Regions from separate parts of the Homo sapiens genome. Here region 1 is linked to region 2. The links come from fine-mapping of genetic effects on gene expression. A gene starts in region 2. The other region holds a variant in brackets. All regions are shown on one strand. Distances are from middle to middle.

What was found. PIP is the estimated chance that this variant, and not a neighbour inherited with it, causes the effect. A credible set is the group of variants that fine-mapping cannot tell apart.
Region 1: its variant is the best candidate, but not a certain one, in a credible set for the expression of TSC22D2 in whole blood (TOPMed, PIP 0.78).

What each region holds. Positions count from the first base shown.
Region 1 is chr3:150,463,352-150,466,273 of GRCh38, forward strand. It overlaps TSC22D2 (TSC22 domain family member 2), which reads left to right. Exons shown (of 3, transcript NM_001303264.2): 3 at 1-2,922. Among named protein-coding and RNA genes, the nearest start is that of TSC22D2, 57 kb to the left of the region's middle. The variant A/G (reference allele first, on the strand shown) is at 1,454.
Region 2 is chr3:150,406,377-150,409,298 of GRCh38, forward strand. TSC22D2 (TSC22 domain family member 2) reads left to right here and starts at 1,922. Exons shown (of 3, transcript NM_001303264.2): 1 at 1,922-2,922. RefSeq lists a silencer at 2,013-2,612.

The DNA.
Region 1 (2,922 bases), 57 kb after region 2:
GTCTCCTGCCTATCCAAAACCAGACCTTTTCTCCCACCTCCTTCTGCTTCAAGCCTCTTAATAATCCATATTTCTATTTTCTAGCAATAGTAATAGTTTATTATTTAGTGATGTATACTTGCACCCCATTTACTCCTTTTCAATATTTCAGGATACATCTTTGTCCTGTATTTCTGTACCAGTTCACAGAATTTCTACAGCAAGATCCCTTTAAATGTATGGCTTTCCTTCATAGGTTGCAAGGATTACTTTATACAAGTGCTACTGTAACTATATCTTTTGTGGAGTACAATTGGTATGACATGCTGTGTTCATAGATGAAAATGCTAAGTGAGGCACTCTGAAGCAAGTTAAAGTTCACAGACATTCTTGCTTGCCCACCACCCCCCCGAACCCCGCCATGGAATCATCAAATAAGAAAAATAAGACAGATTTTCAGATTGGTGATGGCAAAGTAAGACGCTGGTATTTTGCACTGGCGCAGTCCATTTAGTTGTTGAATTTGTTCAGCATACCTGGATGGTGAGTGAGTTAGCTTTATTTTTCATTCTCAGCAGGGAAACTGATAGACTAGGCAGTTTGGGGAATTTTCCCATTGTCTACTGTCATGGGTCCATAGTATTTAAGTTTACAGACTACAACATTGTCCACAGAAGCCATATTTATCCCCTTGGAGGGAAGGGAAAGGTGTGCTAACTTAGATCATAAAAACAACTGAATTTTAAAACAAGGCAAATGCCACAGTTCAACTTCTCCATAAAAAAGTTAAGTTCATCTCTCCATTCTTTTGCATGCCTACAATATTTCCATATAACAACTGTAAAATACTCTTGCCTGCTGCAATCCAAATGTTATCCGGATCACAGTTCTTGCTGTCATTTCACAGGCATGCAATGTATCTATAGATAGGTCATATCATACCTGAGGAAGATCAGAGACAGCAAGGGAACATTTTCCCCACACTTGAGATGGAAATAATAACAGGTCAGTGGCTAATAAAAAGAAACATGTATGACTTTGTAAAACCCTAAAAGTGATGTTTTCAAGAAATTTAGGTTTCTTTTTTTTATTTTATAAAAAAAATGTTGACATGCAATTTAATTCTATTTCAATTTAGGTGCTGCAACCTGTACTGGATGTTTGGGGATAGAAAGATGAATGGGACATGATTTGTGTGCTCCAATGAGCTCAGTCCAGTGTAAGTGTAAAAGTTAAAGTGCCATATTGTTTATTCAGAGTATATGTTATAGTTTGTGAACCTTATATCATTTGTTAAATGAAAGGTTTTTATAAATCAACAGTAATATTGCCATCCCATGTAAAAATCCTTTGATATTGCCAGGAAACAACTTTAAATCACCAGAAAGCTTTAACATCAAATAATACTTTTAGAAGGAGGGGAAAAGCCTTCCACCTCGACATCGAGCCTATGAAGTATTCCCTAAAAAAGAGG[A/G]ACTAATCTGAGAAAAGTTTACACATTTTTAATACTCTAAGTTGTAGATAATGAAATTGATTTAAATCAAAGTTAACTAGAATAGGATTCATGTGTCATGAATTATATTGTCTATTGTCTCATAAGCAACAAGTGACACTTATTATCTTGGCTGACAAAATCAGCTACCATTTAATGAACCAAGTTAAGAATAACTCAGGTGACTGATACCAAAAATAAATCTCTAATACAGCTGAGAATCCAGAAACACAAATAATATGTTGAGTAAGTAATAAAAGTGACATTTCAAATTAGTAAGGAAAAAATGGATTATTCAACAAATAGTATGGGATAGCATAACAATTTAGAAGAAATATAAAGTTAGATCTTTCACAAAAATTAATTCTAGCTAGACTAGCAGTTAGTCTTCTACTTTTTGGTTACTCCCTTTTAGAAATTGGAAGCTATGAAGCTATATACCCTGTCCATTTGAAAATGCACATAAGCAAAGAACTTTACAAATAGGTTATAAAGAGAAGCTCAATCTCAGCAAAATAAGGGAAGTGCACATTAAAACACAAGAAACCATCTCAGATCCAACTAATATTTAGCGTGCATACAAATCAAAAGCTGGAAAGGGTGTGGAAAAACAGGAATACATTGCTAGTGAGCATACAAATTGGCACAGCCTCTTTTAAAGACAATTGTGTATCACCCATTAAATTTTAAAAGTCACATACCCTGTGACCTAACAATTCCAACTTTTAATGTCCTAAAGAAACATACATGTGTTCACAAGATAGCCTGTACAATGATGTCAATTGCACCTTTGCTTGTACAGTAGACCCCCTTATCTGCATTTTCACTTTTTGAGGTTTCAGTCATCCAAGGTCAACCACAATACAAAAATATTAAATGGAAAATTCCAGAAACGAACATAAGTTTTAAACTTCAAACCTTTCTGCATAGTATAATAAAAATCTCTCACTATCCCTCTCCATCCTGCCTGGGACAGGAATCATCCCTTTGTCCAGTGTATCCACAATGTATACACTCATTATATACCCATTTTATAATGCCCATTAGTCATTTCTATTATCAGATCATAAAAAAACATAGTACATAGAGGGTTTGGTATTATTCATGGTTTCAGGCATTCAGTGAGGGTCTTGGAAAATATCCTCCATGATGGGGGAGCTACTGTAATACTATGAAATTGGAAAAACCAAAATACTCATCAAGAGGATGGACTATGGTACACATGATGAAGTATTAAGTATCAATGAAAAAGAGAGAGTCCTACATGTCCGGCATGGAAGGATCTCCAGGAGACAATGTTAAAAGTTTGGGGGAAAAATTGAAAGACAATACCTGTAATACATATGATACTAGTGATGTTAAATCACATCACACACACACACACACACACACACACACACACACAAATACTGTATAGTGTACTTCTACAAGTACATATTTGTGTATTATAT
Region 2 (2,922 bases):
ATCTAAATGACACTTTTAAAAGTTATAAATCATATGCTTTTCCTAAGATGTCTTTTAACATCTTTAGCCCCCTCCTTACCAGAAATTTAGTCCACTTCTGGATCTCTTCTAAATTATCTTTATCTTTCCTTTCATCTCATAATATATCATTTTAAGGAGAAATGGTCTTACAGATTACTTTAAGATTTTTCCTCTAAATGTACGATTTAAGAGTATCATAACGAGTAATCAAGAAGTTTATATGATAAGATAATGTAAAGGGATGAGCAGGCATATAATACTCATTTTTCCAAAAGCACCACCATCAACACTACCCATTATAACCACCTTAAACATCTGGTAAATCAATCCAAAATTAAATTAAGCTTTTATAAATTCATATTGGGTTTAACCATTTGATCTAACTTATTGATGGAAAACTGCCTCTAACAATTACTGAAATTACAGACTTAGAAATGAAACATTCCATTAGCTATCTCTGCCACAATAGCATAACGTTACATTTTGTTCCATTACTTTCGCCCAGCCCCTTAAGAAATAGGGATTTTATGTCGTCTTATTTCACATTCTGACTCCAGTCACTTGGGTTTGGAGGGCATGGTTTCCACTAAAGTTAAAAGACCTAGCTCTATAAATTACAACTAAAGACCTAAAAAATTCTCTGCAAATTTAATTCTCAAAACATCTTTTGGGATAAAAAGTATTTCTATTCTTCAAAGATTAGAGAACCGAGTTCAACGATTTACTGATTTAAGTTATCATTATGTGATTGCTAACGCTGCAGTAGATATGAAATCACGATTTCCATTAAGACTTAGATTTTACCTAAATGACGACTGCTTTAGTATGTCAAAGTTTAGGAGCCCATCCCCATTTTTTTAAACTGCTTAAAAGAATGGCCTTAGCATGCCAAAGTTTAAGAGCCCATCCCCATTTTTTTTTAACTGCTTAAAAGAATGGCCTTACCATTTTCTTTGGCCAGGAACTAACTACAAGATGATAAATTTGCCAGTACTTTCTTTTCATAGTTGTTCTTTGCATTGGAACAGGAAAGGGTGCTTTATCACTCGTTACGGTTGTTCATGGCCCAATCCAAATCATATAATACGCTGGCTGCTACTAACAGTTTTAGAATAAACAAAAAGAAGAACTATAATGCAGTAGGTTCTACATTTATAAAGCCCATGAGCTGATTTCGTGCCGAAAGTAAAACAGTCTCAAGAGTTTAAATGAATCCTGGAATCACAGCAAATTCAGGAAATTTAGGAATATGTTGGTAACCCTTAAGCTTTTTAAAAACTGACTACACCCTGGGCAAGTAACCACCCCCTGATGCCGTTGTGGGAGACAGAATTTCTGGCAGGAAGATAATTTTCTGACTCAATCTGGCTTGCCGTTCTTGTTTAATCATCCCCATTTCTCTGAACATTTTACTCCTCTGACTACAATGGTCAACATTTATTTTCAGAAGTTTTAAAGTGATTTAGTTCTTCCAGCCGCACCTCTTTTTATCCCATCTAAGTCTTCCCCAGCCCCCATTCCTATCGCCCTCGTTTCACTAAGATTTTGCTAAACATTAGACACAAGCACATGACCTCCAGTCTTCCACTGTCTCGGAACAAACCGACATAAAAACATCTGATTAGTTCCATTGTAAGCTTCCCTAGGCTTAGAATTTAAAATGGTCTTTAGCTCGTCAATGCTTAAAGAACCTACAACACAAAATTTAAATTTTAAAAATTTTAAATAAAGAAACCGCTCCCTTTTTTAACCTTTAGCCCCGCCCATTGCCCCCCACCCCAGGTTCCACGCGAAACTGCAGGAAACCGGAGGGGGCGGAGCGGTGACGTCACGACGCCGGTGCGTCACGGAACGGCGGCGGCTGCGGCGCTGGCGGTGGCTGCGGCAGCGGCGGCATTTTAGTCGGCAGCGGCGGCGGCAGCGGGGCTGCTGCTCCTCCCAGCATCCCTGGCGCGGCCATTTCAGCCCCATCTTGGCCCAGCGGAGGGAGCTGCAGCCGCCGCTTCAGCAGTTTGAATTTCAGTTTCTTCGGGGTTTAGGAATTGGGCGCACCGAGGAGGAGCCGGAGAAGCCACCACCGCTACCTCACACAGCCGGGGCGCCTCCGGTCCCGTGCCAGCGGTCTGCCGCCGCCGCCCCTCTCTGAGAGAAGCCGCGAGGGGAGGCCGAGACCGCCGTCGCCGCCCGCCCGCAGGGGTGGTTCCCCCTGTAAGGGGAGGACCGAGCCGGCTTTCCCCTCCCCCAGAGCGGGTTTCCGCCTGAGGCAGTCGACATGTCCCTGGGGCTGAGCTCCGGCTAGAGCCGGGGAGGGAGGGCCGCCTGCCCGCGCCACAGCCCCACCGCCCGCCCGCGGACCTTCAGCCAGCTCCGGCCCGCGGCTCCCGGCTGAATTAGGCATCTCCGACTCCGGACTCGCCGCTCCTTCCCTCAGTCAGAGAGCCCAGCGCTGACGCCGGCACCGGCCTGAGGAGCCCGAGCGGGGCAGCACCGCCCCTCACGCCGCCGCCACCGCCTCCTCCTCCTCCTCTTCGCCCTCCCACTCCCACCCCCAGCCAAGGCCTGCTGACCGCGCCGAGCGCCGAGCTGGACTGACCACGGCTGCCCGGAGACGAGAGAGGAAGCAGCCGGCCCGCCCCTGGGTTCGCGCTCTCGCCGCCTCTGAGGGAATTGAATTGAGGCGCCGCGGCTGCGAGAGCTAAAAAGGAAGGAGGAGCCGCCGCGGGACTGAGACGGGGGCAGAGCCGAAGAGACCGACACAGAGAAGGAAACGAGGAGGAGGATGTCTCACCGGGCGGCCAGCGCCTGGATCAGCCCGTGACTCTTAACAGCGGCGGGCCTCAGACCCCAGCGCAGACTCGGACTTTGTCTTTGGGGGCCCGTGCTCTGCCCTCCCCGGTTTCC